Homo sapiens: one gene and its partners. The protein of the gene in region 1 purifies or fractionates together with the protein of each later gene. This does not show direct contact. Each region holds a gene or a part of one and is shown on either strand. Other genes may lie near its edges. The genes, in order: SP7, SORL1 and SLC25A13.

What was found.
Region 2: the proteins of SP7 (region 1) and SORL1 purify together in Homo sapiens (affinity purification with mass spectrometry; 2 studies listed by BioGRID and IntAct, with this or other methods). This does not show direct contact.
Region 3: the proteins of SP7 (region 1) and SLC25A13 purify together in Homo sapiens (affinity purification with mass spectrometry; one large-scale study listed by BioGRID and IntAct). This does not show direct contact.

Annotation. Positions count from the first base shown.
Region 1 is NC_000012.12:53,334,185-53,337,933, forward strand, and holds the start of SP7 (transcription factor Sp7), read right to left. Parts: upstream 2,171-3,749; 5' UTR 1,962-2,170; intron 1,593-1,961; exon of another isoform or gene 1,510-1,592; 5' UTR 1,463-1,509; coding exon 1,442-1,462; intron 1-1,441. UniProt on the Homo sapiens protein: Transcriptional activator essential for osteoblast differentiation. Binds to SP1 and EKLF consensus sequences and to other G/C-rich sequences.
Region 2 is NC_000011.10:121,602,237-121,605,885, forward strand, and holds part of SORL1 (sortilin-related receptor preproprotein), read left to right. Parts: intron 1-1,956; coding exon 1,957-2,088; intron 2,089-2,876; coding exon 2,877-3,003; intron 3,004-3,165; coding exon 3,166-3,335; intron 3,336-3,649. UniProt on the Homo sapiens protein: Sorting receptor that directs several proteins to their correct location within the cell. Along with AP-1 complex, involved Golgi apparatus - endosome sorting.
Region 3 is NC_000007.14:96,185,950-96,189,598, forward strand, and holds part of SLC25A13 (electrogenic aspartate/glutamate antiporter SLC25A13, mitochondrial), read right to left. Parts: coding exon 3,632-3,649; intron 3,430-3,631; coding exon 3,345-3,429; intron 1-3,344. UniProt on the Homo sapiens protein: Mitochondrial electrogenic aspartate/glutamate antiporter that favors efflux of aspartate and entry of glutamate and proton within the mitochondria as part of the malate-aspartate shuttle.

The DNA of each region.
Region 1 (3,749 bases):
CTGGATACAGAGTGTGACAAGGGACGTGGTGTCCATCTGGTTGGCTTGCATGCTATTCCCCCAAACTCAGCCACAAATTCACTATCTCACAGCCTTGTGCACACACCATTTATCACTTGGACTCACAGCACTCAGATGGCCCAACTTACACACACACACACACACACACACACACACACACACACACACACTCTCAGGGCCTGTGGCACCCTCGACTGCACCCTAACGATTACACTCAGGCCAATGAACACAGGTGTTAAAAGACTCCTGCCCCATCTCACAAACACACACCTCTCCCACAGGTTGAGTGAGTTGGCTTCCTGTTTGGCCCAGCACCCCTGGGCCTGAGCTAGGGCACTGGGAAGAGAGATGTGGGACCCAAGAATAGGGAAGAGTCAAGGCTACTGAAGGGGACTGACTTTCAGGGAGGGCCCTCTGGCCCTAAATTCCTGCAGAGAGACCCAGAAAGCAGGACAGAGATGGTGACAGAGGAACAGTGTCAGAGACCCAGAAGCAGGGAGGAATCTGGCCCTGAGTGGCTGTGAGCCCTGCCTTCCCAACTCTGTGCCTTGGGTCCCCCAGAAGCCAGAGTAGAGTCAGAAATTTCTCAAGACCCCAAACCCTGACCCCAGTGGTACCCCAATTCCCTTTGTCCCCAGCACCAGAGGCAAGGGATGCTGGGGTCCCAGCCCGGAGGGGAAGTGGCCCAGTCCGCCCTGGAGCCTCCCACTCCCAAAATAGAGCTGAGTTTGTCTTTGGCTGAAAGCTAAATATTTGTAAGCCGGGCAAGCGGCCTCAGACCCCGTCCCTCCTCCTTGGTTCCCTCACAGGCCTGGGCTCAGTTCCCCTGGTCAGCTCCCCCACAGGCACAGGCTGGCCTCCTCCTTTCTCTCATAGCCTACCTCCTCTCCTCCACACACCAGCTCACGGGCCCAGCCCCCTCCCCACAAAACCAGGCAAGATCCTGTCTGGGCTACGAGTCCCAGGAGACGGGACCCCTAAAGAGCTATACCCAGTTGCTGCTCTGTGCCCACTCAGCCAGTCCTCTCTGCCTTCTATCTCTTCTGCCAGCTTATGTATTTCCCACCCCTCTCTCCTCACTCCCCCTCGCCCCCCTCCCCCTCCTTTCTCCATCGCTTTTCCACTCCTCACAGTCAGTGTGCTTAGCTGACCTTAGGTAGGGGTCCATGCCTTCTTCTGACCTAATCCCCTCTCACCCTCTTTCCACTGCCCTCTGACCCCTGGCCCTATTCTTCCCTCCCTTTTCTCCTGCCCTCTGCTTCCCCTTTCTTGGACCCCACTCCTCTCTCCTCATCAGAAGGACCCCTGGAATTGACAAGCACCACAGCTACTATCTATGTGAGTTGGAGGAGGTGGGTGGGCAAGGACTAGGACCATTAAGGTTGTGGCTGGTTTCCTGGGGGGAAGAGGGGACAGTTACCTCAAGCAGGGAGGACGCCATCCTGAGGCTGGGGAACGGGTCCCAAGGAGCCAGGCAGATGGAGAGAGCTGAGCCGGGGGGTGGGGGGGGTAGAGAGAGAAAAGGGAGAGGGAGGGAGAATGGGAGAATGGGAGAGAAGAGATCTAAAGTTAGAAGGGACCGGGGTGGGGGGCTGCTCTCTGTCTGTAGGGATCCACCCTCTAATTACAGCTTTCCCAGCGGAGAAGGCTCCAGATCCAATGAGGAGGGCGAGAGAGGGAGGCAGAGGGTCCAAATTTCCTGCTCCATTTGCTGAGCTCCCCAAAGAAGGGATCAGGGAGGGAGAGGAGAAAAAGGGGCGCCCATGGAAGGGGTGGGAAGCAGGAAGAGGGGAGAGCAGCATGGGCAAGTTGTCAGGGCTTCCTCGGGGGGCTGCTGAGGGGAGAGGTTAAAGGGATGGTGGACCCCGGTGTCCTACACGCGGCAGCAGTCCCATAGGCATCTGTGGGCACCCCTCCCAGAGCTCCCCAGTGTCATGTACCTGGGGGAACCTGGGGCTGGCTGTCCCGAGTCTCTCCTCTCTGGAGGTCTGGCAGGGAGAGTGCAGGCAACGGGTGGCCTGAGGGTGCTGGGAGGGATCCGCTCTCTCCCAGGCCAGCTCCACTCCTGTTCCACTCAGGCTCCGGTCCTACAGTCCTACTCTGACTCCAGAGTCCTTGCTGCTGCTCGGCGGCTGCTGCTTCTGCTACTGCTGCTGCCTAGGCTGCTGCCGCCCGCCGCTGCTGAGGGAAGGAACAGGAGGGAAAAGGAACAAACCCCAAACCACTAATTAGAGATCCAGGGGGGGGATGGGGGGTTGGGGACGACACTCACACAGAGAGACTGGAACGCACTGACATACACACTCATGGCCAAACACAGGGGTGATGCATGCACACGTACACACAGTACCACTCACATGGGTACAGCCACTATCATGAATGAACACAGACGGACACACACAAATGCACACAGTGACGCACTGGAGGCACACGCACCACACCCGCCCCAGCTGACCATGGAGAGGCTTGCTTCCCCAGTCACCCACCTGCCTCTAGATCAGGAGAGCAGTGTGTATGTGCCCCTGTGTGTGTGTACGTGCCCGTGTGTGTGTGTGTGTGTGTATGTTGTGGGAAGAGGCATGGAAGGTTCTGAGGTGGAGGTTTCTGCTGCCTAAACTTTTAGTGTCACTGAGGTTGGTTCCAGAGCAAGGCCTGGAGGAAGGGTTGAAGAGTTGGGGAAGGCTTGGTATTGGCTTGGGGGTCCCTCAGTCTTCCTCCCAGTGCCTCAGTTTCACTGTTTGGAGGTGATACCTAGGCCTACCTCACTTTGTGGGGCAGAACCTGGATCTTCTGATGAAGAGAAAATTTAAGACAAGCAGGAGTGAGGGTGGCGGTAGAAGGTCATTGGGTCAACTCATTCATGCCGACACCTAACCTCTTTGGATTATTTCCCCCAAAAAGAAATGCCCTAACCTCCATATTCCTTGTCAGTTACCATCCCTGGGTAACCAAGTTACCATCTCTTAGAGACCATGGGTTTAATCTCCATCCTTTGGTGGACAGTTCTCCAGAGTGATCTGACTTTCCTGGGAACTCCTGGTTCCCTTTCTCATTGCCATGCATCAATTCCCTCTTCCACAGAAAGAACTGAAGTTAGAACTTAATAAGGACTTCCCAACAAAATAGGAAGTAAGAGAAGGAAGGGCAGCCAGGTTAGGAGGGAAACCCAAAAAGTCTATTACCTGAAACCTGGGCCATGGGCCCTGAGGTATTTATGGGAGAGAGGACTGGGCAGCTAAGTGGTGACACCGGCAGCTCTCCCACAGGGGGGCTTAGCCCGCTGGGGTTGTTTTACAGGTTATTCCTTAACACACACTTCTCCCCCTCCCAGCTCTCCCTGTCAGGGGAATAAAGCCCCATCCTTTCCACTCTCCTCACTCTGCAACACCATCCCCTCACTTTCTCGGAGTGCCCAATTCCTTGCTCCTTTTGCTCTCCCAGATCTCCAAAGAAAAAGCTGGGAGGTGGCAGGAGCAGATGGAGGTCCACGGAGGGTTGCACAGCAGTTTCGCCAGCAGGTAGGCACCAATTTCAGGGTAGGGCCCAGGAGTTCTGGATTCTAGCCCCATGATTTGATTTACCTCAAGGAACTCTGGGAACCCAAGGTTTAGGGGAAGGGTTTGGGAACCAGGTGGCTGATAGACAAAGAGAAAGCAGCAAAAGAAGAAACAGAGCAAATGAAAGAGTCCAAGACAATCAGAAGAGATATCACCAGGTATAAGAGAGAG
Region 2 (3,649 bases), on another chromosome or scaffold:
GATCTTCCTGGAGAATGGGGGATTATAGTTTGTGAAAAGCCTCATAAGTGGTTTTGATAGTTCCCTTCTATTGACAATTTTTTATCAGGATTGTTTTTGAATAAGTAGTGAACTGAAGTCTGTACCTCCATCCTAGAGACTCGTGCAAAGAAGTCTTAATTCTTCTTTCTCATGAAAACTCATCAGTGGAGAACACTTGTCAGAGTGGTCTGCATGTCTTCTCACCACCTCCCCCATCCTTGTATCTTTTCACCTCTAGGAAAATATCCCTGGATCCTTTATCCATTCCTCTTGACCATCCTGGTTGCTCTCATGGGAACATTATCCAGTTTCTCTACCTATATCTCAAAGTGTGGTTGTTTATGTTAGGAGGAAGGAGAAGAGGGAGGGGGTCGAGGTCAAGAGGTGACCCATGACCACATGCCTGGGTCTGAAGTGGGGCGTATGAAGCTTCCTTGCTCAGGTCACAATGCTCATATCACCTTTAACATAACTTTGTTACTTGTGTGTACACTCTCTTTATTTCCTCAGGGCTTAGTTTCAGGAAGGGACTATTATCATCCTTGCTTTAAAATTAAACTATAAACAAAATTCCTTCCATAGTTAGCTTGGCCTACGTGCAGAGATAGGCAGAGGCCGTTAACCTACAAGATGTCACCATGGGCAGGGGGCAGGGTGCGGGGAGCAGAATGGAGCCACTCATGTTCAGCCTCCTTTTGTCTGTTATAATTTCCCCATTTTCAAAGCCAGTGATGTTGCATGTCTCTCACCTGTCTTCTGTATTCTCTCTGTCTCTCACCACAACCAGAAAAGGGTCTCTGCTTTTAAGGACCCATGTCATTAGACAGAGCCCACCTGGATAATCCAGGCTGAACTCTCCTACCTATGGGTCCTTAATCTAATCACACCTGCAAAGTTGCTTTGTTACATAAGGTAACATATTACAGGTTCCAGGGATTAGGATGTGGACGTCTTTGACTTGGAGGAGCAAGATTGATTTTAGACCCTCATCACTGGTGGGATTGGATTTCTGATGTAGCCCTTCCTTGTCCAGGACTGGGCAGGCAGGTGTGAATCTGTATAAGGAAGGCCTCAAGTTACTGTTCCTGGGCTCAACCAGCTACATAGCAGATTTGTACCACCCAGGTACACAGCCTGCATAGCAGATTTGCTGTCTACAGCCATTCTCACCTTTTCTCTTTTCAGGAGCATTTGCAATTATACGGTCATTGCTTTCTTTTTGGAGCCTCCCGTGCAGTTTTAATCTACTTTCAGAACTGGAGAGCACATCACATTTTGGTCAATAGCCTAGACATACAGTTGCATAACCCTTAACTTACCAGTGCTCATTATTTGCATTATTTCATTTTCTGTTCAAGTACTTTGAAAAGCCAAACAACTTTAAATACTACATAAAGTATGCATGCCTCTTAATATTGTTGGGATTCATCTCATTGTTATTTCTGTTACTCAAACCAGAAATCAGCTCCTCTTTCTAGATTGCAAACTAATAATAGTAGCAGAATAATTAATAGTACTATAGAGTAATAGCTACAGTTTGTTGATGCCGGCCAGGAGCCAGGCAGTGTTCCAGGTGTGTGATCTCATTAGATCCTTGCAGACATGATAGTGATGGAATTGTTACTTCCATTTTTTATAGGGCAACTGAACTCAGGTGATATTAAGCTGTTTGCTCAAGCTCATGCAGATCTAGGATTTAAACTCTAGTTTGTTTGACTCCAAAGTGCTCACTCTTCCCGAATGCAGATTCCAGTTGTTAATGTTAGATGAGATGGCACCTTAGTGCCGGTATAGATTCCACCACTGGTCATTCCAGAGGTGTGTTTTGAAGCAGAAGCCAATTAGTACTTTGCCTAAATGGGAATAAACTTGGGCCCAGCCTTTAGTACCATACGGCCCCTCCCCGTGGACTTAAGAAGCCTCTCTGTGTTTCAGCCACACACAGCACCTTGACTTGCATGAGCAGGGAGTTCCAGTGCGAGGACGGGGAGGCCTGCATTGTGCTCTCGGAGCGCTGCGACGGCTTCCTGGACTGCTCGGACGAGAGCGATGAAAAGGCCTGCAGTGGTGAGTGCCGGTCCACGGGCTGGGCTGGGCTGGGCTGGGCTGGGAGGCTCGCTTACCCCAGGGCCCCTCCTGTGTAGACCTTGAGCTAGGACCCTTTTGAACTGTTGCTCAATCTAAGGATAAAACAGATTTGTGCCTAGTTTTGGAGCCCCAAGTGAGGTGAGCCTTGGCCAGACTCTGATACAACATGCAGCTGTCTCCTCCCTGTTAGTGAAATGCTAGTCTTGGATTTTTTTTTTTTTATGGACTTCCCACCTCATGCCCATACACCATGGCTCTCACAGTCTCAATCTGCTGGTGGGATTAACTCAGTTCTTATCTCTGGAGTGTCTAGTAATGGACCCTATGACATGGTCCTTGGACTTGTAGCATTCTCTATGGAGAAATAGGCTTAAATTGTCATAGGCAGGAGGAAGATGAAATTCGAGGGAAAATATCACGACCGGAAAAGTAGGAGACCCTAGGAGGGATTGTATAGGGAGGTTTCAACTACATTTTCTGAGATTTCTTTTCAGATAATGATTATGGCCTCCTGATAATCTAGATCATGGTAGTTCTGTTTAAAAGCAGGAGTCCTTTGAAATCTAAGGATTTGTAAGATGTAACTTTTTTTTTTTTGTATTTTTAGTAGAGACGGGGTTTAGCCACATTGCCCAGGCCAGTCTCGAACTCCTGAGCTCAGGCAATTTGCCCGCCTCGGCCTCCCAAAGTGCTAGGATTACAGGCGTGAGCCACCACGCCCAGCCAAGATGTAACTTTGTTTGTCTTTTTCTCCTTTATCTCTCTAGATGAGTTGACTGTGTACAAAGTACAGAATCTTCAGTGGACAGCTGACTTCTCTGGGGATGTGACTTTGACCTGGATGAGGCCCAAAAAAATGCCCTCTGCTTCTTGTGTATATAATGTCTACTACAGGTAGGTCCCATCTTTGTCATGGGAGATGAAAATGATGTCTTCATTGCCCCAGGATGTTCTGTAAACTCTCTAGTGGCATGCACCATGCTATTAACGGAGTCAGACATCTCAGCCCCCCATGCTGCTCCAGTGTGACAATATCTTTATTTTTTTTTGGGCCAGGGTGGTTGGAGAGAGCATATGGAAGACTCTGGAGACCCACAGCAATAAGACAAACACTGTATTAAAAGTCTTGAAACCAGATACCACGTATCAGGTTAAAGTACAGGTTCAGTGTCTCAGCAAGGCACACAACACCAATGACTTTGTGACCCTGAGGACCCCAGAGGGATGTAAGTGTTTCAGTTAATTTTTATGGCATGGGTAAGACCTCAGGTCGGGGTTTGTGAGGGTCTTTCTGAGTATTCTCAGGAATGTGGGAACATATGTGTGCCTCACATGTACAGAAGTATGGTGGCTAAGCTTTATAGTCTTGCCAGAGTTGTCAAACATCTGTTCTTCTTACTGCATCAGAGACTGTTCTTGTACCTTAAGTTAATTTAAGATTCTCTCCACCATTGCCCTCTTGCATTTTTTGTCTAGTTTCTACCTCTACGTTCCTCCTCTAGATATTTCCTAGTACTTGGTACTTAGGAGGAGGTCATCG
Region 3 (3,649 bases), on another chromosome or scaffold:
CATCATTTTTCATCAATCAAATTGGCAGGTTTTTGGTTTGTATGTATTTTTGTTTTTGTTTTAAGTGGCAATACCCAGCCTGGCAAAAGTTGATAACAAGCCTTCTGAAATTTGCCATTAAAGCAAGCATAAATAGAGAGATGTTTAGTAATATACACCCAAACCCTTAAAATGTACATAACCTCTGAAGTTAGAATAGGCTGGGTGCAGTGGCTCACACCTGTAATCCCAGCACTTTGGGAGGCCGAGGTGGGTGGATCACTTGAGGTCAGGAGTTCGAGACCAGCCTGACCACCATGGAGAAACCCCGTCTCTTCTAAAAATAAAAAATTAGCCGGACGTGGTGGCGCATGCCTGTAATCTCAGCTACTTGGGAGGCTGAGGCAGGAGAATCACTTGAACCTGGGAGGCGGAGGCTGCAGTGAGCCAAGATCGCGCCACTGCACTCCAGCCTGGGCAAGAAGAGTGAAACTCCGTCTCAAAAAGAAAAAAGTTAGGATAGAAGATAATCATGCATGTAACAAGCTACAAGAATGTAGCACTTAAAAAACATTTGTAGTACTTATTGGAAATTTCGATTATTTCCCAAATTTTTGCTCTTTAAACAAAAAGAACAAAAATTTGGGAAATATTCTAAATGTCCAATAACGGAGGACTATAGCCTTTAAAAATAATAACTTTAAAACAAAACCCTATCATTCAAAATGATACTGTAAAAGAATATTTGATATTAAATGTTCACAAGGAATTATAAAAGAAAACATAGGCTAAAAAGAGCATGGTAAGTAGATAGGTATTTGTCATATGATTCTTTGTACCTATTTAAATGTTTGACCTATTTCCTGGTAATTTTTTTAAAAACAATTTTTAAGACTATATACAAAATGATGTCACTTTTTATTAAAAATGCTTGTAAGAGGTTTACATATATATGCATATAAAATTAATACTAATATTTTGCCTCCCTACCACCCAGAGATACTCAAAACATTTACAGTAGCTAAAACTAGGTGGCTGTATTACAGTTGATCGTTACTTTTTCTCTTTTTTTGTCCATCTTTTCTAAATTCATACTTCAGGTCAGTCAGTCATTGTTTTCTGGTTCTTTTGACCTATTATCCTCACAGTGTTTTTGATGCCAGAACATTTCAGAGTGCTGCACTTCTCTGTCTGCATAAATAAAACAGTAATTTTATGTCACAGAGAGTTGTCAAATGAGGGTGACATATAGTCAGTGCTTAATAAATACCTGTTGAATGAATACATACATTCAATAAAATTTGTTTTTCAGAATCCATGATAATTAAAATCAGTGAACAATGAAAATAATCAGCAACCCCAGCTATCAACCCACTGAATTTTAGTTGCTGTCAATGTAACACAATTCTAATACAATGAGATCATTTGGAATCTCCTTCAAAGTCACTTAACTGAAAATAGCTTTACATAGAAATATGCCTCTTTAAGATACAAAACATTTCTTTTGCAAATTCTATGAGTTGTTTCCAACTGTAGCCCTATATAGATGGAAATCAATAGTACCTTCATTTTGACAGATGCATCCAAAAGAGAAGCAATATTTTATTTACAGGGATATAAATATGCAATACTTAGAAATGTTCTGGCATCAAAATAATGAGTGAAAATACTCTGAAAATTATAGAGGGTGGGGGGAGGAGGGACCTACCACCACCATTAATTCCTCTCCTAAAAGACAAATGAAATCCTAGACTTTTATTTAACTTTTCCAAAGCCAGAACTGTAGCATGTTCTTGAAATGAGACAAAACTCTGCTCCTTCACTCCTCTGTCCAGGATAAATGCTACAAGTGCTGCACAGTGCTGGACAGGCAGCGCTGTGCCCACAGGTGGACGACCTCCCTTGCTTGAATTTGTCGGGCCCACTAGGGTTCATGCAGTAAAAAGCCTATTCCAGGTAAGGCCATTGTGAATTGCTCTAAACCTCTAAGCGGCAGCGAATCATTTCCTGCTATAAATCTCATCAATCTGGTCTAACCCTTTCATGGCCAGTATCAACAAGCACCCATCATAAACTCTCAAAAGCTGCAAAGAGCTTAAAGGAAAAATTGTGGGAAGCCGCTGCCAGCTGAAGAGTAGGAGGGATCTAAAAAAAACTTCTCTGCTTCTCTTAATCCCCAAATTTCTACAATAGCTGGTGGCATACAGACGAAGAGATAATCATCTCCTAAGCAGTGTTAAAAATCAAAGGGAAGGGAGAGCAGTGTTGCTTCCACCTCTACACGTGATTATAGTTATTTCTCCTGCACTCAGAGAAATCGGCTTCCTCTTTTAAGCAAGGCCAGCTGGTTTTCCAGAGGTGCTCGTTAGAATTTACTGAGCACACACCCACTACTTTGACTTGCATGCTGCACACAAAACTCACCGCTGCATTTGGGTGGGAAAGAGCTAAAAGAAGGGGGCCCTGGCTCAAGGTCTGACAGTCCTAAAAGTGTAGCCTGCAGCAACCCATTGTGGTCACACTGGCGTCTCTGTACAAACCCAGAGCTCCATGCCAGAAACTGCGAAGTCTCACAGGATTCAGAGATGGCTCTGCCTAAAAGGAGAAATTTTTCTAAAAACGACACTCGCCTGTGAGTGGATTTATTTTACAAACACCATTTATTTTACTAACACATGCTATGAAGGCTTTTCTTCTCTAATCCTGATCTACAGAAAGCTGGGTAAGAGTTAAAGGAGAAAGTTCCATGTCTTAAGTTTCTGACTCCCACAACTTCAAGAGATTGGTTTCTGTTAACCATAAAATAAAATTTAGCATTCCTAAAATTGTTTCCATATAACTTATGAATCCTTTCACAGAGAAAATAGGTCTGAAAGCCTTTAAACTGTAACTCCAGACTAAACAAAATTATCTCATTTTGATATTCAGAAAAACGGAAGGCATGGCAGTTAGACGATGCGCTGATGAAGGGCTGCTCCACAGAGCAAAGACGGCTTTCATTTAGCAACGTGCAGCTGCCGACAGGCACAGTGACACCAACACGGGATTCTTTCGCTACATCTCTCAACATGAGACTTCAAGAAAGGAGAAAAGACCTCCTTCATGTTTTCGGAGCATTAGGCTTCTGGTGCAGTTAGGAAATCACTCCACCTTAGCAAGAAATGAGCAAATGCCAAATACCTGTTTATCACACCATTTCTAAGCAATTTCTCTTTACAGCCTTTAAAATTTATCGAGAGTTTTGGTGCAAAACAGAAAAATGGTTAAGTCAGATACCAATGCCGCAAAGGCAACTGCAAGTGGAACAGGGTTGGGGTATCCTGCTAAGGAAACCCCAGAATGCAAGTTTGCTCCTCTTTGCTCACCTGCCTCTGGGCCTCAGCCAAGTTAAAGGGCAGAGTTCCCTCTTCCAGAGGAGCAATCCGTTCAATGTCTGCTAAGGTCATACGTCTGTAGGGGAAAAACAAACACAAGCAACAAATATACCAATTTATTACAATTTACATTATAAAATTTAAAAACATCCCTTTTTTCATTTCTCATATTTCAGTATAGCCTTCAGTTTGGCTTCTTTTTCTCCTGATTGCTGCCCTCCTCCTAACCTCCTTTTATTAAGCTAATTCCAAAAAAAAAAAAAAAAAAGCCAACTTACCCCCTTGGCTCATATAAA